4 linked regions of the Homo sapiens genome follow. The protein of the gene in region 3 purifies or fractionates together with the protein of the main gene of each other region. This does not show direct contact. Each region holds a gene or a part of one and is shown on either strand. Other genes may lie near its edges. The genes, in order: COPZ1, COPG2, COPE and SACM1L.

Region 1 (7,195 bases), on a different chromosome or scaffold from region 3:
ATAGGCTCGTGCCACCACGCCCAGCTATTTTTTTTTGTATTTTTAGTAGAGACATGGTTTCACCATGTTGGCCAGGCTGGTTTCGAACTCCTGACCTCAAGTGATCCGCCCACCTCAGCCTCCCAAAGTGCTAGGATTACAGGCATGAGCCACTGCACTGCGCCCGACAGAGATACTTTCACATATAACTCCCCCAGCTTACCCACTACACACAGGCCCATTGTTAAAAGGGCTCCCCAATTATTATCTTCCTCATTCCTTTACCTTTAAGCAGGCTCCCTTCTAAACATATATAGGTAAGTCTAAAAACTTCCAAAAAAACCAATTCCCTAGAATCTATCCTAGTCTGCTAATTGGGTTTAGGGGGAGGTTTTTTATTCTTATTTTTTTAGAGACAGGGTCTGGCTTTGTCACCCATGCTGGAGTGCAGTGGCACAATCATAGCTCACTGCAGCCTCAAACTCCCAGGCTCAAGCGATCCTCCTGCCTCAGCCTCTTACAGTGCTGGGATTACAGGCATGAGCCACTGCACTCAACCTCTTGATTAAGAATACTTGCTGCCGGGCACGGTGGCTCACTCCTATAATCCTAGCACTTTGGGAGGCTGAGGCAGGTGGATTGCCTGAGCTCAAGAGTTCAAGACCAGCCTGGGCAACACAGTGAAACCGTCTCTACTAAAATACAAAAAAGTTAGCCAGGTGTGGCAGCACGTGCCTGTAGTCCCAGCTACTCGTGAGGCTGAGGCAGGAGAAATTGCTTCAACCCAGGAGGCAGAGGTTGCAGTGAGGTGAGATCACACCACTGCACTCCAGCCTGGGTGACACAGCGAGACTCTGTTTCCAAAAAAAAAAAAAAAAACTTGCTAACTGGCCGGGGTGCAGTGACTCACACCTGTAATCCCAGCACTTTGGGAGGCCAAGGCAGGCAGATCACTTGAGGTCAGGAGTTCAAGACTAGACCAGCCTGGCAAACATGGAGAAACCCTGTTTCTACTAAAAATACAAAAATTAGCTGGGCATGGTGGCGCGTGCCTGTAACCCCAGCTACTCAGGAAGCTGAGGCATGAGAATTGCTTGATTCTGGGAGGCGGAGGTTGCAGTGAGCCAAGATTGCACCACTGCACCCCAGCCTGGGCAACACAGCCAGACTCTATCTCAAAAAAAAAAAAAAAAAAAAAAAAAAAAAAAAAAAAAGAATACTTGTTAACTGCTTGGTACAGAAAATATTTAAAACTACTCAGATTTTAAGCTTTTTACCTATATTTGACCAACCGACATAAGGAATTAACTGTCTTTAACTGAAAGAGAGGAATTAAAACCTGTTATTCTTTTATCTGATGAGGATCTGAATGTGTATGCTTAGGAGATCTGAAGGAAAATAAAAGACAAGCTTCTTTGGAAAGAGGCCTAGAGTTCAAGCCAATTAAGGAAGAAGGCTGGGAGTTAAATTCCTACACTATACTACCTACCTACCTACACACACACACACACACACACACACACACACACACACACCCCTCCAAATCGCAAAATAGGGCACTTTTGAGAGAAATTCTCTGGTCCAGTTCTAAAAAGGGGTAACAGGTATTTTATTTGTTAGAACAAGCATAAAGCATCATATGGACAAGAGGGCTAATACAGCCCTTTAGCGACCACAATTCTCATGTAACCAGAGAGGGAGAAATTAGCATCCTAGATCATACAATAAGAATTCCTGGCCCGGCGCAGTGGCTCACGCCTGTAATCCCAGCACTTTGGGAGGCCGAGGCGGGTGGATTACGAGGTCAGGAGATCGAGACCATCCTGGCTAACACGGTGAAACTCCGTCTCTACTAAAAAATACAAAAAATTAGCCGGGAGTGGTGGCGAGCGCCTGTAGTCCCAGCCACTCCGGAGGCTGAGGCAGAAGAATGGCGTGAACCCGGGAGGCGGAGCTTGCAGTGAGCCGAGATCGTACCACTGCACTCCAGCCTGGGCGACAGAGTGAGACTCCGTCTCAAAAATAATAATAATAATAATAATAATAATAATTCCTGGCCAGGCGCGGTGGTTCAAGCCTGTAATCCTAGCACTTTGGGAGGCCGAGGCGGGCGGATCACTTGAGGTCAGGAGTTCGAAACCAGCCTGGCCAACATGGTGAAACCACGTCTCTACTAAAAATACAAAAAAAATAGCCGGGCGTGGTGGCACGCGCCTATAGTCCCAACTACGCGGGAGGCTGAGGCAAGAGAATAGCTTGAACCCGGGAGGTGGAGATTGCAGTGAGCCAAGATCGCGCCACGTGCGCACTCCAGCCTGGGTGACAGAGCAAGGCTCGGTCTCAAAAAAAAAAAAAAAAAAAAAGAATTCCTAAGGTCTAAATGGGTAGAGAAAAGGAGAACAGAATAAGGAGTCTAGAAAAAATATTCCACAATCCATGCTAACTTTATCAGGTATCCCAGAACTTTGATGGAATACTGATTATTTGACAAACCTATATAATAGGGATTAACAGGAAACCGAAGACAAAACAGTTTCCTGAAGGAATGTGGCAGGGAATCGGCAATGGAGAGTCAAACTTGGGAAACCATCAGGAGGAGTCTGTAACGACAAAACATCTGTATTCTTTTCTTACAATATGGGGCGAGTTTGGTGGTTTGGTAAATTAAAATCAGGGTATCATCCACAATGCTAAAAATAAGGGGCAACCTGAAGGGTCCTAATCCAGTACGCCTACAGGTCTGTGTATCCTAAGGAGTCCATGTGCTGCCTTCAACTTTCCACCGACTCTATGCCCTCTCCCCGGCAGGGCTTCCTACTCTAAACCAAGGCTTTAGCTCCTACACTAGGCCACACACTTATTCCAAAGGTCAGCAGAACGCTCAGTCCCCAAGAATTACCCGGAACTCTCTTTCCCCGTCTCCCACTCGGGCTGAACCCTGACTCCCGGCCCCTGTGGACACCACAGCATCTCTGCTGCCCCTCCAGCTCCTACCAAAATCAGCGCCTCCATCTTGCCCCGCAGCTGGTGCCGACGTGGAGCCGCAAAAGAAACGCCGCCGCTGATTGGCCATACGTTCCCATTAGGCCCCGCCTAGGATAAGGATCATTGGGTAAGGCTTGCTTTATTGGCCAATTATTGTACTAGCTTGCTTACCGGAAGCAAAGTGTCCAACCAGAAGGCTCAGGTGTTTGATTGTCAGCTTGAATACTCAATAAAACGCCAAAACCTCACGACTCATTGGGGCGGGAGGGTTAGTGGGGCGGGGTTGTTTCCATGGGGAACAGAAGAAGCGATTGTTAATTTTCAATTGGTAGGGCCGAGGACACGTGATATTGTCGGACTGATTTAGCGATTTTTAAACCGCACCCTCTTTAGGGGGCGCTGTGTCTCCTTAGCCTTTAACACTGGCGCTTTCTAACCGGAATCCTGCCCTAATCCCTATTTTCAGCGCCCGCATTAGGTCCATGATCTCTGTGGCTAGCCCTTCCCTCATGCTCGCTCAGGTCACTTCAGCATCCTCACAGAAAGTCTGCACAACCATAGAGTAGAGCCAAGAAAGGCCCAACATGTTAACTACATAAACCAAGGCTGCCAGGAGTTGATAGTCGCAATAACAATCTCCCTAAGGTGGAGTTCCAGGCTTTGCTGGGCCTGAGGAACATGAGAAGTCAGTTTGTAAAGGCCAACTTGAGCTCAACGTGAAATCGGCTTTGGAGATGGGGTTTGCGGGACAAACGGGGAAAGGGATGGGATTAGAATAAGAGAGGGGTTATAGGGAGTAAATTCTGGGGTTTTCCAATAGAAACAAGCCGTTGTGCCTGGGCGCGGTGGCTCAAGCCTGTAATCCCAGCACTTTGGGAGGCCGAGGCGAGCGGATCATCTGAGGTCGGGAGTTTGAAACCAACCTGACCAACATGGAGAAACCCCGTCTCTACTAAAAAAAAAAAATACAGGCCGAGCGTGATGGCTCACACCTGTAATCCCAGTACTTTGGGAGGCCGAGGCGGGCGGATCACGAGATCAGGAGATCAAGACCATCCTGACTAACATAGTGAAACCCCGTCTCTACTAAAAATACAAAAAATTAGCCGGGCGTGGGTGGCGGGCGCCTGTAGTCCCTGCTACTCTGGAGGCTGAGGCAGGACAATGGCGTGAACCCAGGAGGCGGAGTTTGCAGTGAGCTGAGATCGCGCCACTGCACTCCAACCTGGGTGACAGAGCGAGACTCCGTCTCAAAAAATATACATATATACAAAATTAGCCGGGCGTGGTGGAACATGCCTGTAATCCCAGCTACTCGGGAGGCTGAACCAGGAGACTCACTTGAACCTGGGAGGCGGAGGTTGAGGTGAGGCGAGATCTCGTCATTGCACTCCAGCCTGGGCAACAAGAGCGAAATTCCATCTCAAAAAAAAAAGAAAAGAAAAGAAAAGGAGAAGAGAAGAGAAAAGAAAAGGAGAAAGAAAGAAAAGAAAGAAAGAAAGGAAGGAAGGAAGGAAGGAAGGAAAGAAAGAAAGAAAGAAAGAAAGAAAGAAAGAAAGAAAGAAAGAGAAGGAAAGAAAGGAGAGGAAAGAAATGAGGCGTTGCAAAATGAGAAAAGAGAAGTTTACTGAATGCAAGAATTTCACAATAGGGAATGATTTTGATGAAGCTTGGCTTTCCCCTATCCCTTGGTTTCCTGATCCCTGACTCCTCTTAGGGCAGGGACACCTATTACCTTAATTATCCTAAAGGGATTTTTTCCCTCATCTCTGAAAATTATATCCTTAGGAGCCCTCCAAGAAGAGATTCCAAACTTACCCAGGAATTTTTCTTTTTTGAGACGGAGTCTCGCTCTGTCCCCCAGGCTGGAGTGCAGTGGCTCAATCTCGGCTCACTGCAAGCTCCGCCTCCCGGGTTCACGCCATTCTCCTGCCTCAGCCTCCAGAGTAGCTGGGACCACAGGCGCCCACCACCACGCCTGGCTGATTTTTTGTATTTTTAGTAGAGACGGGGTTTCACCGTGTTAGCCAGGATGGTCTCCATCTCCTGACCTCGTGATCCGCCCGCCTCGGCCTCCCAGAGTGCTGGGATTACAGGCGTGAGCCACTGCTGCACCCGGCCTTTTTTTTTTTTTTTTTTTTTTTAAGACGGAGTCTCTCTCTGTCGCCAGGCTGGAGTGCAGTGGTGTGATTTTGGCTCACTGTAACCTCCGCCTCCCGGTTGCAAGCGATTCTCCCTGCCACCTCAGCCTCCCTTGTAGCTGGGATTACAGGCGCCTGCCACCCCTGGCTAATTTTTGTACTTTTAGTAGAGACGGGGTTTCGCCATACTGGCCAGGCTGGTCTCGAACTCCGGACCTCAGATGATCCACCCGCCTTGGCCTCCCAAAGTGCTGGGATTACAGGCGTGAGCCACCGGGCCCAGCCACCCAGGAATTTTTCTAATAGTCGGAGTAGAATCAAGGAAACATAAAACAATACAATACAAGGGCGCTGTGGCATGTGCCTGTAGTACCAATTACCCCAGGGGCTGAGGCAGGAGGATGCTTGAGCCCAAGAGTTCGAGGCCGTAGTGCGCAGTGATTGTGCCTGGGAATAGCCACTGCATTCCAGCCTCGACAACACAGGGAGACCCAGTCTGTATATAAAAATAAGATAAAATAAAAAATTGAACAATACAATGCAAATTATAGACCTACAGTGTACTCTGACAGAAGGTGAATTTCTGGTGGAATACCAGGTGTTAAGCCTTATATCTGGAAGAAGTGAAGGCTTGTCCTTTTATTCCTCAAGGAGAGTTGTTCACACATTTACTGTGCCTGGCATCACAGTCAGTGGGTTGTCATTGGCTTTGCAGCTTAAAGGTAATACTAACATTTACTGCCCACTTATTATGTGCCAGGCACGGTGCTAAATCTTTAAATACATTATTGAATACATTTTTTAAAATCCTTATGAAGTAGCTGGGCATGGTGGCTCATGCCTGTAATCCCAAAACTTTGGGAGGCTGAGGCAGGCAGATCACCTGAGGCCGGGAGTTCGAGACCAGACTAGCCAACATGGTGAAACCCCGTCTCTACTAAAAATACAAAGATTAGCTAGGTGTGGTGGCAGGTGCCTGTAATCCCAACTACTCCGGAGGCTAAGGCAGGAGAATCTCTTGAACCCGGGAGGTGGAGGTTGCAATGAGCGAGATCCTGCCATTGCACTCCAGCATGGGCAACAAGAGCAAAACTCTGTCTCAAAAAAAAAAAAAAAAAAAATTCCTGGCCGGGTGCGGTGGCTCACACCTGCAATCTCAGCACTTTGGGAGACCGAGGCGGGTGGATCACGAGGTCAGGAGTTTAAGACCAGCCTGGCCAAGATGGTGAAACCCCGTCTCTACTAAAAATACAAAAAATTAGCCGGGCGCGGTGGCAGGCACCTGAAATCCCAGCTACTTGGTAGGCTGAGGCAGGAGAATCGCTTGAACTCAGAGGGCAGAGGTTGCAGTAGCCGACATTGCATGCTACACTCCAGCCTGGGTGACAGAGTGAGACTCCGTCTCAAAAAAAACAAATAAAATAAAAAATCCTTACGAAGTAGATGATTATTAAACCCATTTTACAGATGAGCAACATGGAGTTTAGAGCAGTTAAATAATTTACTTAAGGCTACAGAACTGTTTTAGCAGCCATACGTTTGAGCACAGGAGACTCTAAACCATGTTCTTACCCACAGTCCACTCCTCTAGTTTGTTGTACTGCCTCTCTTGCATCCCAGTCCTACCTCAAGGACTCTACCTCAGTGCCAGATATTCTACAAGGACCATAAGGAGGAAAAAGTGTGGTATGGTTGGTTCATGGGGATGGTTGGCTCCTTTTTCTGTGTAGTAACTGACAAATTTTAAGTCAGATATTGTTGCAGAAGATCGCTTGATTCTTAGCTCTCCAGCCTGTTGGGGTAATTGTGCTGTGGGAGGAAGACAATTGACTGAATTAGAGACATTAGTTATTGTTGTGACTTTGCTTTAATCAGTGAGAGAACTCTGCAAGTCTCTGTACCCTCTCTGGATGGACTATAGCTGTCACTTCTGGAAAGGGGAGAGGTTCAGACCAGAGCTTTCTAGGGCCCTAGCTAACTTTTTTTTTTTTGGAGATGGAGTCTCGCTCTTGTTGCCCAGGCTGGAGTGCAATGGCACACTGTCGGCTCACCGCAACCTCTGCTTCCCAGGGTTCAAGTGATTCTCCTGC
Region 2 (7,842 bases), on a different chromosome or scaffold from region 3:
GAATTCCTTCAAAATGTTTAAGGACTCTATGGAAGAAGGACTAGATTTGTTCCTTCTGGACTATAGGGTAAAAGTTACAGGGAGATATCTATTGGCTGATCAAAGGTGAAATCTTTTTTTTTTTAGGTAAAGAAAGATTGAGCACTTGATAGTGAGATTATGGAAGGGCTAGGAGGGACAGACAAACAGACTGGATGACTTAAGATTCTTTCTGAAAGACTTTGATTCTATGACCTTTAGTAATGGTATAATTATTACTTCACAACATCCCATTCCATGGCCTTCTCATTAAGGAGAATGGAATGTGGATGAGGCAGCCATCTCCAAGAAAGGAAGGTAAAGTCCCATGGATCTATTTCCCAATTTATTGCCAAATACTTACTTCCCCAAGGACTTCACTGGTTGAATCCTTCCCCAAACTGGGTAACTTTCTCTGCCATTCACTTCCAAGGGCCAGTAGGCAAATTTAATCAATTACTTAGGAAACTGAACAGGTTTTGGACAAGTAATCTGGCAATGAAAAGAGTGTTTTCCCTCCCAGGGAACGGCTTCCTCTGATTCTGGTTTCTGAGTTCCCACTTCCCCCTCTGACAGGTTTTGTTGCATGATTGTAGGGGAATTGGAACTTAGTCCAGGAACTTGGTCCAAACTTAAAATCCCAAGGGACTCAGCTTACTCCCTCACTCTTCTTCCCTCGTTTCCCTACAGGAAAGTCATCATCAGCACAAACCCACTGAGAACCTCTGGCTGCCCCGCATGCCTCAGAAAAAAAAGTTAAGATCTAAGCTGAAACCAATCTTCCCTTTGATACTGTCGGATGATCCCACATCCAAGCGAGAACAATGGTTTAGGTGAAATCTTGCTTCTTCTTGTACTTGCTTTCTTTCCTATCTTTTCCCTATTCACGTTTCTGGTTCTTTGCCATACAATTTAATGACATATTCTTTGGTCGTACAAAGATAGTAAGACACGACTTTCCCTACATGACCCTAACCTCATTGACACATGAATCAAAGAGAAACAGTCATGCAAAACTAAGGTTTTGCACTGGCAATGGTTTCAAGATTGAGGGGAAATATTCCAAGGTCTGTGCTTTGAAGAAACAGGAAAAAAAAAAAAGTACCCTCAATACAAGTTAGGCGCTATATCACAGGAACCATGTGCTATGAGAACACATTAGACAAAAGAGGTTTTATGTGAAACTACTTACAAGAGCAGCCTATGTGTAGTTTAGAGAGGACAGAAGAGATTCTGGAGTTCCTCCAAAGGTTTACAGTGTTAAGTTCAGAAGCATCCCTTGTCACGGAACAATATTCCTACTTGGCACCAATCAACAGGCTCCTATCATTGTCTTGTCTTCTCTGAGAATGTAGCCAACTTTAAAGTGAATGGTGGGGCTGGGCGCGGTGTCTCATGCCTGTAATCCCAGCACTTCAGGAGGCCAAGGTGGGCAGATCACTTGAGCTCAGGAGTTCGAGACCAGCCTGGCCAACATGGTGAAAACCGTCTCTACTAAAAATACAAAAATTAGCCAGGCGTGGTGGCAAGTGCCTGTAATCCCAGCTACTTGGGAGGCTGAGGCAGGAGAATCGCTTGAACCTGGGAGGCAGAGGTTGCAGTGAACCAAGATCATGCCACTGCACTCCAGCTTGGGTGACAGAACAAGACTTGTGTCTCAAAATAAATACATAAAATAAAATAAAATAAAATAAAATAAAATAAAATAAAATAAAGTGAATAGTTCCATGAATCCCCCTGCCCTAGGATCTACTAAACAAAGAACTTTCTTTGTTAAGGTTTTCCACTGACAATGATTTCAAGAGCGAAGGGAAGTATTCAAAAGTCTACGCTTTGAGGACACAGAAGAAAATGTACCCTCAGCTCACCTTTGCTCCAGTCCATGAGAGAGATATGAGGAAAGATGGTAAGCTCCTCTCTTTCAAAGCAAAGGCTTACTGGACTGAGATTTGGGCTGGAGATACAATCCATGAGGATTATAGATGTGGCAAACTGGCTTCTCTCGTGGTAGTCCTGGAGACTATTTTTCCCTATAGCATGGAAGTTAACAACAAATAGAGGCTCAAAAGGTGCAAAGCTCTGGACCCTGTTTAAATCCTCAAATTTCAAGAAAGCTCTAGCAGTGTTTACTAAGCTATATCACCCAGCACTTTAATAGTTTTTGCCATATTGATGTATTATTTGCTGTTAATTTACTTAGCATTTTTTAAAAGGATTTTTAAAAAATCTTGTCCTAATTAATACTATATCATTGATATCATGGTTTTGATGTACAAATTATATGCTTTTCTGAAACACTTATATCAAATTTATAATAATGAAATTTTAAAATGTTTATCTATGTACCACCTAGAACCACCCAGTGGTATGCATATTATACTTTGAAGAAAAAACTGCTCTAAAAGGGCCAAAGGATAAGTCTGTGTGTCTTAGAGGTACAAAAGTCTCTGGGATTGGGGTAGGGAATGGGGTAGAAGGGGCTTGGAATAAGGTTGTATGGCAGAGGGTACAATGAGAATCCTCCTCACATATTATCATTTATTTAACAGTATTTCAAGGGTTCCTACTAAGTGTCTGACACTTACCAAGCACCAACAATATCACTTTCAATATGTGAAAGAGATGAAACAGATCATAAAAGGCCTTGACAGGCTGGGCGTGTCCGTAATCCTAGCAGTTTGGGAGGCTGGGGCAGGAGGATTGCTGGAGGCCAGGGGCTTGACACTAGCCTGGGCAACATAGTGAGATCCTGTCTCTACAAAAAATAATTTAAAAAAATTTAACAGGGTGTGGCGGCATGCACCTGTAGTCTGAGCTACTTGGGGGGCTTGAGGAAGGAGGATTGCTTGAACCTAGGAGTTCAAGGTTGCAGTTAGCTGTGATTATGCCATTGCACTCCAGCCTGGGTAACAGAGTGAGACCCTGTCTGAAAAACAAACAAACAACAATAACAAGAAATCGAAAATACCACAATGCCTTAAATATTATTTAAATAAAGGTTTGGGTTTTATCCAGTAGGCAGTTTGGACCCAATGAAGAATTTCAGGGCACTGAGTACACATTTGTGTATTAGATATATATAATTGGTGGGTCCTCAGACTTCACCAGCTCATGGTTTTAAGATAAGGTCCATTTCTCCTACTGGGTTTCTCTCCTCAAACAATTCCTGAGACTCCCTAAGGTATCCTTGCCTGTCCCACAAAGCCATTGCAGTGATTGCTCAACCCGTCTGCCAGCCATCCTCAGTCCAAATAGTCCTGATACCGAAGGCCTGGGGTCATATTATACCATCCCTTAACTGGCTTCTTCAGGCTTCTCTGCTCCTGCTATACCTATCTGCCACCACATCCCATCCCATTTCCACCTACTGATGCTCTTAACTCCGTAAATACTGCACAGCTAAAAACAACCTGTGGTATTAAACAAAACTTCATAGATATACAGAAAAGCTGAAGAACAGCAGAGAATGATTGATCTTGCTTTACAAGGGGCTAGTCTTAGGGTCAGCCCCAAATCTGAACTCAGGTCCTTCTACTTCTCAGCAGGTCTCCGGGGCATTACCCACCTTGAGAACCTCTGGGCCTATTATCTACACTGTCTCTGCCTAGGTTCCCAATACCCTTGGGCCAAGGAAGAGGAAGAGGATGTTTCCTTCCCCAAAGCCTGTTTATTTTCACCCCCAGAATAAATGAGTGCAGACTTCTATTTCCTTCAAAGAAAACTCCACCTACAAAGTATGACTTGACCTTTACAAGCCATATAAAGCAAACATAGTAGTTAATAGTACATTTAGTCAAGTCGGAGTTAAATCTTAAATGATACCATATGTAGGATATCAACAGTTCATCTTAAATCTGTATTTCAGGGAAAGAATTTCTCTAGGATGTAGAATGTAATCTAGGTTAGAATTTCTCTAATTTTGCAGGGGCACGATCCTGTTGAGTATAGACCCAATTTACATTTCTAAACAAGTTATGCCAGTGAAGCCAAAGGCAGACAAAGTTTCTTAGCTACACTCTTAGACAAGAGAACAGAAAGCCAGCATACACTCTGAGAAAAAGAGGAACATGAGTTAGGAATGAATGCACGTTAATTTAGTGAGTTTCTTAAGTGTCAATATGGTTTCAGATGGAATCATTGAAAGAAATAGGCTTGAACAAGGAAGACTCTAAACTGGCAATGAATTTTCCACTGGGTTTTGATGAAATGAAGGAATCCAAAAATTATAAAATAGGTTGGGAATGGTATTACACGGTCCAAAATCTACCCTCTAAAGACCAGCCTCTGGTCCCTCCAAGTGCGTCTCCTTTACATCTCACATTAAGTATCCTTCGAGTACTTCTGAAAAGCCACATTCACCAGGGTGCCTGTGCTTTGTCGTAGCTTCCAAGAAGTCAGCGAGTGAAAGGCCAATTTCCAAAGTGATTCGGGAACCACTGACACTCGCATCGCTCTTGGAAGACATGCCCACCAGAACCGCGCCCGGGGAGAGCGCCTTCCGCAACGGGAGGGCCCCGCAGTGGATTATCAAAAAGGCCACGGTCATCGGGTGAACACAGACCCCTCAGTCCTCCCGCCTCGCTCTCTTGAGACTGAGGGGTCCGCAGAAGTCGCCACCCAAATAAAACCACATTCCTGCTGCTGCGGGCGTGGGCTCCCGGGTCGCAAGCCGGGAGGGTCGAGCCGAAGTCTCCGGCGGGCCGCAAGAGGAGAAGGGGGCGTGGCTGCGTCCCGGGGGCCGAGGGCGGCCGGGGAGGGCGGGCCTTGGCCCCGAGTGAAGGCGCGGCGGCCCAACCGGCGTGAGAGCGCGGGGCCGGCCTTCCTGCAGCCTCTTCCGCTCGCCGGCTGCGGCGCCTGGGACGGTTGCGGTGGGTCTGGGCGCTGGGAAGTCGTCCAAGATGATTAAAAAATTCGACAAGAAGGACGAGGAGTCTGGTACGCGCGGGGCTTCCGAGGCCCACCCTCAGCCGCGGGACGCCCCTTCCCCCGCCCGCCGCCACCTGCTTTCAGGCCGGCGGGGCTGGGGGCGTGGGCGCCGCCGTGCCAGGGGGCCGGAGCTGGAGCCGGCCCCTCCCCTCCCCTCGCGGCTGCCCGGGGCCTGCCCGTAGCCCCTCCCCCGGGCGCCGGAGCCTCCCTTCGGGCCGCGCGCTCCCGCCCCGGCGCCCGCGCGCGCCCCGTTCCCGCCCCTCTTGCGGCGCAGCCCCTCCGAGCCGCCTCCTCCCCTGCGCGCGGGCCTCCGGCGGGGGCCGAGGGCGTGCGCGCGTCTCCGCGTCCAGGGGTGCTGGTAGGGTCGGACCCCTAGTGGGAGCACCCTGTTCCCGGGGCTGGGGTCGACGGCACAGGGTGTGTGTGGAGGAACGTTCAGGTGCCTGGTACCTTATCGTTTTCCTGGGGTCACCGGCTCTGTCCAGGTCCCCGGGGGCAAGACTGTCCCGTGGGACACAGCTCGTTGAATGCTCAGGTGTCCAGAAGTGACCTGCGTCTTGATGCCCGTCTTTGGTCCAGAGCAAATGGGGAAGATGCCAAGCATCCTCAAAAAGAAAAAAATTCTCAGTGTTTGGTAGCATCTCCCACAGTGTGAGAGGGGGTTGGGTTAGTCAACCTCCATGGCCTCTTGCACCTTTACGCCTGCATGATTCTCTGGGAAACTTCGTTTCTGCCTCTCCTTAAGTGTTAGAAACACATAAAATACTGCTTACCTAAGGAAATCAAAAGCACCCTACTACAATCTCATTAATCTTCGTTGTTGTGGAAATGACACATTTTTAACATTCATGGAAAAAGAGGGCAGGGAAAGAAGACACTCATTTTGGAGAGGGTTGCTGCGAAAGAGAAGTCTCAGCTCTTCGAGTATGGCAGTGACAGAGCCGGGATCAAAATGATTTCATTCAGTTCGTATGCGTATTAGCCATGATTATCACTGTGCCATCCAAGTGTTCACTTCCCAAGCATTCAGTACCCTTCTCTGGAAAGTATATAAGTTTGTGTAGAACAGCTGTTCAGGACATTTTTTTGTTTTGTTTTATAAATAGGTAGTGGCTCCAATCCTTTCCAGCATCTGGAGAAGAGTGCTGTTTTACAGGAGGTATGACTGGGAAGTATCTTGTGCCCTTTCTTTTCTATTCTGTTTTAGAGTGGTGGGCAGAGAATCCCTGGGCTGCTGTGATCACGACATGCAAAACAAGAAACGTAACAGAGTTTAGGGAATATAGATTTGAGGGAAAAGAAAGAGGGGTTACTTGTCACAGGAGAATTTGGAGCTTATAGAAATGCAAAGACATGAAGACTGTCACAGGTTGGGAATTTTAAATGTAAGAACAGGTGTTTAGTGCAAGGTTATTGAAATCAGTTATCTGTATTAATCTCATTGTATTAGTATGATATAGATAAGTATTGTGATCCTTATTTAACTGGTATAGCCCATAAAGTTGAAGTAGTCAACCTAAGGGAATGAGAAAGTATAGGATGGAAAATCAAGGCCACGTGTAATAATTTATCAGATACCTTAGTAAATTGAGAACTATAGACAATGTTCTTTGGATACCGTGATTAAAAATAGTCTGTATTAAAGTTGATTTGCTATAATCTGTGATAGAAAAGGTAGAAAAGTAGCAATGTTTTTTATGTTTTTTCATAGGCTCGTATATTCAATGAAACTCCAATCAATCCAAGAAGATGTTTGCATATTCTTACAAAGATTCTTTACTTACTGAACCAGGTATATTATTTTTATTTTCCTCAGATAAGTGTGTCCTGGAATAGAAATACTGAAGATTCAGTGAAATACTTTCTGGAAAGTATATTTATTTATTTTAAATTCACTTAATTTTAACATATACAACGTTTGGTTAACAAAATAATATGTAAAACTTGAGTACGAGGACTATGACATATACAGGTTGAGTATACCTTCTTTGCAATGCTCGGAACCAGAAGTGTTTTGGATTTCAGATTTTTTTGGATTTTGGAATATTTGCAGAATACATACTCACTGACTATTGCTAATCTGAGTATCTGAAATCCAGAATGCTCTGATGAGTGTCTCCACTGAGTGTTATATTGGCACTCAAAAAATTTCTGATTTTGGAGCATTTCAGATTTTGGATTTTGAGATTAGAGATGTTTAACCTATACTTCCTTTTTATTCATGAGATCCTAAACCAGTGATGCGCATAGTAGATTCTCAATAAATCCTTTGGTTTCAATTTAATGAGTACTAGTTAGAGCATGTTGTTTACATGTATTTGGAGATCTTCATGTTTTTCTGAAAATACAGTGCAAGATCAGGCAAATTCCAGATATTTTCTTTTTTATGTGTGTAATGATGTTTTAAAGCTTTGATTGTTAATATTCAGATTTTATATTTATTATCCCTATGCTACCATTACTAGCAGAATAATTCTGGGCAGTAGCTTAACCATTTTATGTGCCTTGATGTCCTTTTCTCTACATGGGGATTATGATAATACCTGTTACAGAGTTGTAATGACTAAATGAGATAATTAGTGTAAAGCACTGAGAATAGTCCTGAACATACAGTAAGCATTCAGGAATAGTTTTCCTTCCGTCATTCAGCAAATATTTATTGCGTAGCTGCTGTGTGCTGTGCACTGTTTTAGGTGTTGGGGATATAGCAGACAAACCAGCAAAAATATTTGCGCTCATGAAATGTAGATTCTGCTTGCTGCTGTTGTTATTAATTTTTCTTTTCTTTTTCTTTTTTTTTTTTTTGCCCCAGACTTAAAAAAAACTCATGAAATGTCTAGGGCCTTAGAAAATATGATTTTGTTTCATGGATTCATATTCCCTCAGTATCAGTGGGGA
Region 3 (7,660 bases):
GCCAGGAGTTCAAGACCAGCCTGCCCAACATGGCAAAACCCCATCTGTACTAAAAACACAAAAATTAGCCGGGCATGATGGTGTATGACTGTAGCCTCAGCTACTCAGGAGGCTGAGGCAGGAGAATTGTTTGAACCCAGGAGACAGAGGTTGCAGTGAGCCGAGATTGCGCCATTGCACTCCAGCCTGGGGGACAGCGTGAGACTCTCAAAAAAAAAAAAAAAAAAAAGAGGCAGGATGAGGGTTGACAGACGGCTTGCCTGCCTGATGTCCTCTCTGCTGATCCCTCCCTGGAGCTGGAACTGACAAGAGTTGGCCCTGGGACTGCAGGGCTGGAAGGCTGGAAACTGACTTGCTAGGGGTGGTCACTGTTACCAAGAAGGCCAAGAAGGAGCCAGCAGAGGAAAACAGAGGAGAAAGAGGGGCACAGGGAGAAAGGATGGGGACCATCACATAAGCTGCTGGATCCTGCCACGCCTGACAGCCACCCTGCAGCCAAACTTTTCTCTCTTTTTCCCTGAGACAGTCTCACTTTGTCCCCCAGGATGGAGTGCAGTGGCGTGATCTCGGCTCACTGTAACCTCCACCTACCGGGTTCAAGTGATTCTCCCGCCTCACCTTCCCCAGTAGCTGGGACTACAGGTGCTCGCCACCATGCCTGGCTAATTTTTGTATTTTTAGTCGAGATGAAGTTTCACCACGTTGGGCAGGCTGGTCTCGAACTCCTGACCTCAGGTGATCCGCCTACCTCGGCCTCCCAAAGTGCTGGGATTACAGGTGTGAGTCACTGCACCCAGTCCCAACTTTTCTCTTCTGGGAGGTAACGCATTTAAAGCGCCTTGATTTCTGCCCTTCTATCCTGGCTCATGCTGGAAGAGCCTCCAGCTTCTCAATGACCTTCCCAAACAATTCAATGAAGATATGAACTGCCCTCCCCAGGGGTCTCTGTCTGTGCAGACGCACACCAGGCCTGTTAGTTGTCACAACTTCCTCTGAGATGGGACTAAAGGCCCAGGAAAGCTCAGTGACACCCCCAGAACACAGCAAATGGGCTGCTCAAACAGCTGCTTGCAGGGGTTTCCTGGCCCTTCCATCAACGGCTGGGCTGAGGAACCCCAAAGGCCGGCTGCACCTTCAGATTGAGGGACCTTGGCTCCTTGAGGGAAGCCCCCATGACCTCCAGGCTGAGCAGAGGCTGGGGAGTGCTGAGACTGGCTGTGTGTCCCAGACCAAAGACGTCGGGCCACCTCCTCCTTTGAAGGGCGGTGGGAGGGGAGAGGCGGGCCCCGCTCACTTGCACGTGTTGGTGAAGATGATAATGGACCAGTCCTCGTGCTCATCCTGGAAGCGCTGGATCAGGTGGACCAGGTAGGCGTCCTTGACCTTCTCAGGCACCAGCAGGTAGCGCTGGTCCAGCTGCTCCACGGTGCTCACCCTGGGGATGGACAGATAGACCGCCACGCCTCAGTGTCCCTGTCTGTAGGATGGGGCTGCCCTCCCCACGCTGTCTGGGCTGTGGACTCACGGGGCCTGTGCTTCCCAGAAGAAGGGCTGGTTGGTGGCCAGACCCTGCAGCTCCCGGAGTGTGTCGGTCAGCGTGGCGCTGAACAGCAGTGTCTGCCTGCGGGCCGGCACAGCCGCCAGGATGGCCTCCAGGTCCACGGTGAAGTCAGTGCAGCCCTGTTCCAGCAGCCGGTCTGCCTCATCCATCACCTGCCGTGCCAATGGGGGCAGGGGTGAGGGTGCCGTCCATGGCCCCGGGTCTTGGCCACCCCTGAAGCAGGCCTCTTTGAGAGGCATGGACATGGACCCTAGGCCCTGGAGTACCCTCCTTCCAAGGGAGGCCTGCCCCTCACCCAAGTCTCAGCAAGGCCCTACCCCCGAATAACATTGCTAGGACTGGGCCCCCTCTTGTTGGTCCTTGAACGGTCCTTGTCACTGTTCCTAGCGTTTTACTGGACAGTCTAACGGACATACGTTTCCTAAATGGATGAGATGGTGCCCCAGGCTCTGACATTGGGCCTGGAGGCTCCGAGCCCAGCTCCTGAGGTCTGCAGGGGCGGGGCGAACTCACCAGGAAGCGGATCTTCTTTATACTAAAAGTGTTGGAGCTGCGCAGGTGATCTGCCAGGCGCCCCGGCGTGGCGATGACCACGTGTGGTTTCCGAGAGAGCTCCAGCGCCTGGGCCACCATGTCTGGGGGACAGAGCATGAGAGGCAGGGCTGGGCAGGTGGTCCAAAGCTGCTAGGGTCCCATGCTGGGGCTTCCCCCGCCTCCCAGCTCCCGTACCCATGCCACCGACGATGATGCAGTCTTTCAGCCCTAGAGGCTTCCCCAGGACCCGGAACTGCTCTGCGATCTGGTAGGCCAGCTCCCTGTGGGTGTGAAGGGGCCAGGCTGGGTCAGGTAGTGGTTCTGGACCTGCCCCCCATTCCCCTCTCCATCCCCAGGGTTCCTCCCTGAGCCCCCAGGCTCCTGACTTGCCCAGTCCTGTTCACAAAGGCTCTGATGCTGAGCCTTGGAGGCCATTGTGGCCCCTGCCCCCTCGCCAGGCTCAGCCTGGAACATCCCTCCTTCACCAGCCCGACCCAAGCTGACCTCAGCATCTCTTCCTATCCCAAACCTGTGCCTTCCCCCAGTTCGCCTTTCAGCAATGGCCTCACCACCAGCCAGTTGCCCCAGCCAGAGGGTCTCAAGCATCAGCCTCCTTTCTGCCCCCAACCAACTCTGTCCTGGCCTCTCCCTGGCTCATGACCTTTCCTGCTCACACACCCCCAGAATCAATTCTAACCCTCCGCCTGGCATTCAAGGCCTTTCTCAAACTGGCTCCAATATGCCCAGGTCCCAGTACCCTTTCTGCTGCCTGCCTCTTTCTTTCTTTCTTTTTTTTTTTTTTGAGACAGAGTTTTGCTCTTGTTGCCCAGGCTGGAGTGCAATGGCACGATCTTGGCTCACCGCAACCTCCGCCTCCTGGGTTCAAGCGATTCTCCTGCCTCGGCCTCCCGAGTAGCTGGGATTACGGCATGCGCTACCATGCCCAGCTAATTTTTTGTATTTTTAGTAGAGACGGGGTTTCTCCATGTTGGTCAGGCTGGTCTCAAACTCCTGGCCTCAAGTGATCCGCTCACCTGGAGCTCCCAAAGTGCTGGGATTACAGGTGTGAGCCACTGCACCGGGGCCATCTTGTTTAATTCTGCAGGACCCCTAAGAAGCGGGTAGCAAGATTTTCATGCTCATCTCACACGTGGGAAAAGGGCGCTCAGAGAGGGAAAGGTGCTTGCCCAAGAGAGCACAGCTGGTTAACCCATACCCAGGAGGCCTGCTGGGGGCTTACCTGGTGGGTGTCAGGACGAGGCAGAAGATGCCATAGGGATCCTCAGACAGCTTCTGCAAGATGGGAAGGACAAACGCTGCTGTCTTCCCACTGCCTGTCTTAGCACAGCCCAAGCAGTCTCGACCTGGGTTGGGGACAAAGCAGCATCAACACCCTCCATGTGTGGACAGCTGGGTTTCAGAGACCTTGCCCAGGACACACTGCCAGTGAGTGGCAGGCTGGACTGGAACCCATATCCATTTGACCCGAGATGCCCACAGCTTCCTACCACCTCGTTCTAACTCCGTCCAGGAGCACGTGAATTTGGGGAATCCAGAATTCCCTTCCCTCATATGCATCTTGTGCTCCCTGTTGACCCCTTCATTTGTTTATTTAATCCCTGACTTATCACATCTTAGGCTTCCTGTGGGCCTCTCTTTAATGGCGAAACTGGGTTGGGCTAGAGGAGCAGAGAGAAGACCTTCTCCTAGAGGAGCAATCACAGGACCAAGGAGTCCTGGATCTACCAGCAATTTTGACAGCCTCAACTTCTATTTGTAAAATAAAGATAGCAGTACCAGGTCTGCAGGATTTTGCGATACTATCGGACTAGTCATCCATCAAACCCTCCCTGTGCTGAGACTATGAAAATTTCAGAGATTACATCACTTGCGTACGAACACAAAGCGAGTCAGTCATGCAACCTAAATGCCAACACTGTCCAGTCGTCCTCCGGAACCCCGGATCTCCTGTAACGCCCGAGGTTGCCCCTCGCCTCGTGGGACCGGAATAAGCAAAGGTTGCGAGAAGGGAAAGGAGTCGAGAGGAGCGGAGAGGCCTCTTGGGGAAGGCCCTGGGCCATACTCACCCTCCAGGATGGCGGGGATGCAGCCGAGCTGCACGGGCGTGGGCTGCTTCAAACCCAGCTGCCGACATTGTTCCACGAGCCACGATGACAGCCCGAGCTCCGCGAAGCCTGCCATCCTTGTGGCCGCTTGTAGGGGCCCCTTGTAGGGGCCCGTGTGATCCGCGCTTCCGGCGCGCGCCGACGACGTCACGAGAAAAATCTTCCTGTTTATTGGATCTGCCTCCTGCGTGGTCCCACCCTCTCCAGCTCCCTCAGCCTATTCCCAGCCTCGACCGCATCCTTATCATGTTTCCCCGGATCCCATTGGCTTGCAGAAACACACTACAATTCCCGAGATGCTCTCCGTGACGCACTTACGCCTTCCGCCCCCTTGCATATTATTGTGGAGCTTCCCATTGGCTTACTTCGCCGCCGCTCGGAAAAAGTAAACTACATTTCCTAGCGTGCCCGTGTCTTGCTTCCGGCTGACGTGTCTTTCAGGAAGAGGAGCTGGTGAGAAGACAGCGAAATGGCGCCTCCGGCCCCCGGCCCGGCCTCCGGCGGCTCCGGGGAGGTAGACGAGCTGTTCGACGTAAAGAACGCCTTCTACATCGGCAGCTACCAGCAGTGCATAAACGAGGCGCAGCGGGTGAAGGTGCGGCCGCGCAGGGGCGCGGGGACGCTGGGGGCGGAGGCGGAGGACGCTTTCTGGTGGCCGCGAGCCGCGTTCTGCGTCTAAAAACTTTCTCTTTTCTTCTCGCGTTTTTTGGGCCACCTCTTCCACAGTTCAGTGAGGAGTAGTCACTGTCCCGTGACAGAACCCAGAGCAGTAACAGTTTACGGTACTGCTCACTCGTACAGCGTTCTCTCTGCGCCCTTGAAAGTGTTTTGAGTAAGGGAGGTGTTTATGCCACTGTAGTGACAATAAGCCTATTTTGTTCAGCCATACCTTCAGTTCCCGTGAGATGGAGACTGTTGCTTATCCTCATTTTACGGATGAGAACCCTAAAGTTCAGAGAAGGACGTTTCCCTGCCCAACCAGCCTGGTTATTTCTCCCAGAGCTTACCCATTCATTCATTCATTCTTCATTGAGCACTTTTTTGGACGGGCACTGTATTCCGCTGGACTCAGAATGATAAACACAGTTTCCCAGCGCAGTGGCTCAAACGCCTGTAATTCTGGCGCTTTGGGAGGCCGAGGCGGGCAGATCGCATGCGCCCAGGAGTTCGAGACCAGCTTGGGCAACGTGGAGAAACCATGAGTCTACCAAAAATTAGCCGGGCGTGGTGGCGGGCACTTGTAATCTCAGCTACCGGGAGGCTGAGACAGGAGAATCGCTTCAACCCGGAGGCCGAGGTTGCAGTGAACCGAGATCGCGCCACTGCACTCCAGCCTGGGTGACAAAGTTGTAAGAATTAAAGAGGAAAGAAACACGAAAGGTGGCTTGCCAGTCAAGACAGGTTTATTTTAGAGAAAACAAACCTGAGAGGCGCCTTCTGGCGGAGTTGGGTCAGAGTAACACTCTTTTACAGACTAAGAGTTTTTAAGGATTCAGGGTCGGAGAGTTTATCAGAGGCTTGAACTGCTTCTGTGTCTCTTCGTTGTGCTTATCTGGGAGGGAGAGTTGTGTGTCTGTTCCCATACATCTTTCTTTTTTCTTTTCTTTTCTTTTCTTTTTTTTTTTTTTTTGAGATGGAGACTCGCGCTGTTGCCAGGCTGGAGTGCAGTGGCGTGATCTCGGCTCACTGCAACCTCCGCCCCCAGGTTCAAGCAATTCTCCTTTCTCAGCCTCTCGAGTAGCTGGGATTACAGGCGCGCGCCACCATGGCCCGGCTAATTTTTGTATTTTTAGTAGAGACGGGGTTTCACCATGTTGGCCAGGATGGTCTCCATCTCTTGACCTTGTGATCTGCCCGCCTTGGCCTACCAAAGTGTTGGGATTACAGGTGTGAGCCACCGTGCCCAGCCTCCCATACATCTTTCTGCAGCTGCAGGCATACCCCCCTACTCTGCTTTTAGCTTGCCTATTTTAGTGCACCTGAAGGGAAAGGAATGTGCTTATTAAGGCCCACTGTTTTACTGGGGCCCGTTGTATGAAGGTGAAGTTTGGCAGTTACCCAAGAAATTTTCTTCCCACTCTCTCTCTGTCCGAGCTGTCTTTCTGTGTTTTACTGTCTCCTCTTTCTGGCTGCTTGTAGTTAGAAGTGATTTCCTGGCCGGGCGCGGTGGTTCACACCTGTAATTCCAGCACTTTGGGAGGCGGGCGGATCACCTGAGGTCAGGAGTTCGAGACCAGCCTGACCAACTTGGTGAAACCCCGTCTCTACTAAAAAATACAAAAATTAGCCGGGCATGGTGGCAGGCACCTTAATCCCAGCTACTTGGGAGGCAGAGGCAGGAGAATCGTTTGAACCCAGGAGGTGGAGGTTGCAGTGAGCCAAGATCCAGCCATTGCATTCAAGCCTGGGGAACAAGAGCGAGACTTCTCTATTAAAAAAAAAGAAAAAAGAAATTTCCTTAAAATTCATGAGGCTAGAAAGGGGGCTGGAACTTAAAGTGGCAGTGTTTGTCTGAGATGTTGGTGCTCTTACTATGTCAAAAGTGAGACCCTATCTCAAAAAAAAAAAAAAAAAAAGAAAAAAAGAATGTTTCTAGTAGGCTTTCTTGTCTTCACCAGAACCCGCCACTGGAAAAAGAAAAAAAAAAAGGCAGAGGGAGATTTGAGACACAGAGATGATGGAAGCAGAGATGGGAGTAATGTGGCTACAAACTGAGGAATGTAACAGTCACCAAAAGCTGGGAGAGGCAGGGAAGTATCCTCCCCTAGAGCCTTTGGAAGGAGTGTGGCCCTGCTGACACCTTGATTTGGGACTTCTGGCCTCCAGGACTGTGACTGTGAAGGAATACTTTTTTTTTTTTTTTTTTTTTTTTTGAGACAGGATCTCACTCTGTGTCACCCAGGCTGGAGTGCAGTGGCATCCTCCTCCTCCTGGGTTCAAGCGATTGTCCTGCCTCAGCCTCCCAAGTGGCTAGGATTACAGGTGCCCACCACCACACCCAGCTAATTTTTTTTTTGTTTTTTTGTTTTTGAGATGGAGTCTTGCCCTGTTGCCCAGGCTGGAGTGCAGTGGCACGATCTCAGCTCACCACAACCTCTGCCTCCCGGGTTCAAGCAGTTCTCCTGCCTCAGCCTCCCTAGTAGCTGGGACTACAGGCGTGTGCCACCACACCCAGCTAATTTTTGTATTTTTCCTAGTGATGGGGTTTCACTGTGTTGGCCAGGCTCGTCTGTAACTCCTGACCTCATGATCCGCCTGCCTCAGCCTCCCAAAGTGCTGGGATTATAGGCATGAGTTACCGTTCCTGGCCTAATTTTTGTATTTTTAGTAGAGACAGGGTTTTATCATGTTGGTCAGGCTGATCTCGAACTCTTGACCTCAAGTGATCTGCCCGCCTCAGCCTCCCACAGTGCTGGGATTACAGGTGTGAGCCACCACG
Region 4 (4,541 bases), on a different chromosome or scaffold from region 3:
TGGTGTACCTGACATACCCAGTGTGTATTTCTTTTTGGATGGTAATGATTTGCATACTTGTTTGTTTTTTTCACTGGATCAGCAACTTTTTGAAGGTAAAGACTGTGTCTTACTCATTGTTTTATCTCCTTTGTCCAGGATATAGTGAGCCCTCAGTAAATGTTTGCTGAATTAAGGACTCACTCCACCACCACCACTAATTCTGTCACCTTTTTGATAGGGAGGCTCAGTTACCTGTTCATCTCTGTATTCCCCTCAGTGCTCAGCCCTGTAGACAGTCGTGACATAGTTTTAACTAAATGCTGAAATGTTGAGTAGGGGGAAAGAAAGAGCCATCTTATTATTATTATAGTTAGCAAAATTTTTCTGTAAAGAGCCAGGTAGTAAATATTTTTGTCTTTATGGATGGCTGTACATTCTTTGTTTTTGTGTTTATAACCATTTAAAAATGTAAAAAGCATTCTTACCTTACAATACAAAAACAGGTTGAAGCACAGGTATTGCCTGGGACATGACTGCAGGTTTTAGGGCAGGAAGGAAGAGGCAGCATGTGCCGGTTCCTCAGCGGCCAGCCCTGCTTTCATTTCCTCTCTGGGTCCTCTGCCTTCTTTCCTGAAAACACTGCCCAGCGCATGCCATTTTTGGGGAGCCACTCTACTGTTAAATTAGTTCATTTTGTTGTTGTGACTATACCCACATTTACTTAAAGAACCTCTGGAGAGGCAGGAAAGTCAAGACCAAGAACTCTGCTTGAATGAAACGGATGATTCCTTTAGGGAGTGTCCAGCAGAGTGGCTAACAAGGAACTGCCCTTCTTCTTTTGTCCAAGAAGAATTTTAAACTTCAGAGCCATGAAAATGAGCAATTATGCAAATTCGAGTATATTTTGAGTAAAAAGAGATTGGATGCTGTGGATGGTAACTTCTCATGTCAGTTTATTCTTATGATAAACTTTGTGATGTTTGGTTATGGTAATATCTGATTTCTAGCTCCTGCTGTGGTTTTCAAAGAGAATAGAAAACAAATGTAGCATGATCTCTGAGGGCTTGTTAGGAAGGAGTCTGGATGCTAGTTTCTTCCGTGGTGTGCTCACTGGCTGTCATTCCCTGTATGTATTTCTCCTTCTGCAAATGAGGCCAGTAGTGTTGCAGAGAGAGAAGCTATTCTCTAGGTTCAGCTATTCAAGGAGTAAAACAAAGTAGATCTTTGCCCACCGGCTTGCTGCTAACCTTTATGAACTTCGGACTTTGGAAAATGCATATCAGCAGAGTTGGGTTAAATATGTCATTAAAATAGGTTATTGGCTGGGTGCTGTGGTGTGTGCCTATAGTCCCAGCTACTCAGGAGGCTGAAGTGGGAGGATCACTTGAGCCCAGGAGTTCTGGTCTGTAGTGTGTTATGCTGATCGGATGTCCGCACTAAGTTCAGCATCAATATGGTGACCTCTTTGAGCAGGAGATCACCAGGTTGCCTAAGGAATGGTGAACTAGTACAGGTTGGAAACAGCAGGACAAAACTTTCATGCTGATCAGTAGTGGAATGGTGCTTGTGAATAGCCACTGCACTCTAGCCTGGGCAACACAGCAAGACCCCATCTCTAAAGAAAATGTTATTGACTTTTGTTTTATATATTTGTGTATATGCAAAAAATACTCTACAAAATATACATAACTTCAGAAAAGTTATGTATAACTTATGTTTGGTATTTATGAATATTCTATTAATTTTTTGTGCAGGTGTTTTGACAATAGCTCATATCTGTTATAGAACTATGAATTAAACTTAATAGTTATTTGTATTATTAAAATATACTAAAAGTGATCATTATTATTTGTATAATATAATATGAAATCATTTAGTCCAGTGGTTCTCAAAGTGTAGCCTCTTGATCGGTAGCATCAGCATCACCTGGGTACTAGGAACTTGCTAGAATGCAGATTCCTGGGGCCCAACAGTTGATGCTTTATCAAGCCCTGCAGAAGATTCTGGTACTAGCCAGGGTTTGAGAACCACTGGTTTAAACCTTAATTAAGAGGTTCTTATATTTTTCCTGTGAATGTGCTAGTAAACTTTAATGTTGCCAAAATGTGCTAAACAGCTGAAAACTGGGTCTGATATCAACAAACGACTTATTTAGCTTTTTGTTTCTTAATATCAACAGGTGACACTTGGACAGAAACACTGGCCTATGTGCTCTTCTGGGGAGTTGCAAGCATTGGAACATTTTTTATCATTCTTTACAATGGCAAAGATTTTGTCGATGCTCCCAGACTGGTCCAGAAAGAAAAGATAGACTGAATTTGTATTTGTGGAAAGCGGCTTGGCTTGGAAGATTCCATTGTGCAGAACTGGAGTCTTTACTGACCCGCTTTCCACATCAGCCCAAGGTCTTTTTAATGCCTTTATCCAAAAGCACATCTTGTGCTCCATGCAGGATGATGACAGAATTGATCTGATGTTACTGCCTTGATGGTCTCTTTACTATTGGGACAGTTAGATTTATAATTTGAAGCTATTCTGTAATTAAAATATAACCTGAATTCAGCTTGCAGAATGGAAGCTGAATCTGTTCATTGTATTCTATTGATTGTCAATTTAATTAGCTGTTGCAGAATAAGTAATATATTTTAAAAACCTAGCTCCTTTCATTATTTAAAACAGCAAAATTATTTTTGTAGCTCAGTTTCATTATTGTCATTGTAGAAGCGGTCACTATTAGCAGGCATACTTTTCCACACATCTTTGGACTTTTCTTAAAAGTTCAGTAATAAGCTAACTGTGTTTATAAAATGTAAGTCTCTTACAGACATCAAGTAGTTTGATGAGACAGTCTGTGACTTCATGATAGGAAAGAGGAGGATGAGGTCTGGGGTTCTTTAAAGTCTCTGGTGGGCTGCCTCATGACTTTAATCAGCTTGAACTGCCAGTGCACCAGCAGTTTAGGTGTGATGAGAGAATTCAGATATACTTTATCTTTTTAAAAAAGTGTAAATAAAATCAAAGAATGTAAAGTCTATCTCTTACGCTAGAGGTCCAAAGCTGCCTCTGTTTTAAAGATTATCCCAATGTGGAAGATGCCCATGACTGGTCAGCTACTTCCTCCTATACATTTTGGTTTCTTTGAGGGTCACTCATTGAGACACGCAGGCCTCTGAGAGGGTCTTGTTCTAGATTTCATATTGCACTTGGAGGGTAACAGCTGCTTTTTCACGCATGGTACTCTTGATGTTTTTCACTCTGTCAAGGATTTTGTTGGCTATCAATGAATGTGTCTAAAACTTAGTGCTTCCAGGTAGTTATAGTACTCCAAATCAAGGACCAACTTAAACGTTAATTTTTGTGCAAAAACAAACCTGAAAAATATGCTTCGGAAACTGTGCATAGTTCTAATTGTAAGTCAGATTGTATATTCAAATTGTAATTAAGAGATTTAAATATTAGAACGGTATGTAAGGTAGTATAATTACCACTATTTTAAATAATTCAGTTAAACACTGCTGCAATATTTCAGTGTTGTGCTTGAAAATATGTACAGTTTTTTTCCAATATTAATACCTTATGTTGTCCTTAAATATTTCTAAAAGCGCCTTTATTTCAGCATTACCTTTTTTTCATCACTATCTTTTATAAAACATTAATATAAGTCGTTACTTTTAGAAACTAAAGGAAATAATAGCTGGAAAACCCTCTGTAGTTTAAAATCAGTCATTAAACTCACAATAGGGTAAGTAAATATAGCCACCTGTTAACATGTAAATAAGCATAATTTGTTCCAAAGATGGAATATTGAAACTTAGTTCATGTCTGCTGTAAAATATTATTTAAATGCTGCTGGGCATTTCACTTAAAGAACTTAATGTCAACAGCTACAACAAAGACCAAATCTGAACTGCTAATGTGGCTGCTTTGTAGGGAATGGACTAATATCAGTGTGTTAGATCTTAAGGTATCAGTATTTCAGAATCCTGCGACGATTTTATTTCTAAATTCATGTACTGTATGTCCATAAGTGAAAATAAAATGTCATATTCTTTTCTATTATTGGTATCATTCATGTACTTTGAAAGTGATGTTTTTCTTTTTGATCTTAGAATGCTAAAAATCATGCAAAATGATAGACGGTTTGGCTCTGTGTCCCCACCCACCCAAATCTCATCTCAAATTGTAATCCCTACGTGTTGAGGGAGGTACCTGGTGGGAGGTGGTTGGATCATGGGGGATGGTTTCCCCCATGCTGTTTTCATGAGTTTGCACGAGGTCTGATGGTTTAAAAGTGTTTGGCATTTACCCCCTTGCTCGCTCACTTTCCTGCCACCGTGTTAAGATGTGCTTTGCTTTCCCTTCACCTTCTGCCATGATGAAGTTTTGTGAGGCCTCCCCAGCCATGCGGAACTGTGAGTCAAACCTCTTTTCTTTATATGTTACCCAGTCTCAGGTAGTTCTTTACAGCAGTGTGAAGACAAATTAATACACAAAGCAATGCATGATCATCATAGAAAAATTAGAGTAAGCAAGAAAATCAGTAGCTTCTGCAATTTTGC

What was found.
Region 1: the proteins of COPE (region 3) and COPZ1 purify together in Homo sapiens (affinity purification with mass spectrometry; 3 studies listed by BioGRID and IntAct, with this or other methods). This does not show direct contact.
Region 2: the proteins of COPE (region 3) and COPG2 purify together in Homo sapiens (affinity purification with mass spectrometry; 5 studies listed by BioGRID and IntAct, with this or other methods). This does not show direct contact.
Region 4: the proteins of COPE (region 3) and SACM1L purify together in Homo sapiens (affinity purification with mass spectrometry; 4 studies listed by BioGRID and IntAct, with this or other methods). This does not show direct contact.

The regions. Positions count from the first base shown.
Region 1 is NC_000012.12:54,320,960-54,328,154, reverse strand, and holds the start of COPZ1 (coatomer subunit zeta-1), read right to left. Parts: upstream 3,025-7,195; 5' UTR 2,992-3,024; coding exon 2,974-2,991; intron 1-2,973. UniProt on the Homo sapiens protein: The coatomer is a cytosolic protein complex that binds to dilysine motifs and reversibly associates with Golgi non-clathrin-coated vesicles, which further mediate biosynthetic protein transport from the ER, via the Golgi up to the trans Golgi network.
Region 2 is NC_000007.14:130,665,743-130,673,584, reverse strand, and holds the start of COPG2 (coatomer subunit gamma-2), read left to right. Parts: upstream 1-4,836; 5' UTR 4,837-4,916; coding exon 4,917-4,953; intron 4,954-6,050; coding exon 6,051-6,103; intron 6,104-6,655; coding exon 6,656-6,736; intron 6,737-7,842. Other genes in the region: TSGA13 (testis-specific gene 13 protein), read left to right, coding at 709-851, 1,797-1,924, 4,402-4,571. UniProt on the Homo sapiens protein: The coatomer is a cytosolic protein complex that binds to dilysine motifs and reversibly associates with Golgi non-clathrin-coated vesicles, which further mediate biosynthetic protein transport from the ER, via the Golgi up to the trans Golgi network.
Region 3 is NC_000019.10:18,916,379-18,924,038, reverse strand, and holds the start of COPE (coatomer subunit epsilon), read left to right. Parts: upstream 1-4,651; 5' UTR 4,652-4,690; coding exon 4,691-4,816; intron 4,817-7,660. Other genes in the region: probable ATP-dependent RNA helicase DDX49, read right to left, coding at 1,295-1,435, 1,526-1,713, 2,075-2,196, 2,291-2,376, 3,336-3,459, 4,183-4,297. UniProt on the Homo sapiens protein: The coatomer is a cytosolic protein complex that binds to dilysine motifs and reversibly associates with Golgi non-clathrin-coated vesicles, which further mediate biosynthetic protein transport from the ER, via the Golgi up to the trans Golgi network.
Region 4 is NC_000003.12:45,741,372-45,745,912, forward strand, and holds the end of SACM1L (phosphatidylinositol-3-phosphatase SAC1), read left to right. Parts: intron 1-2,161; coding exon 2,162-2,298; coding exon of another isoform or gene 2,299-2,364; 3' UTR 2,365-4,038; downstream 4,039-4,541.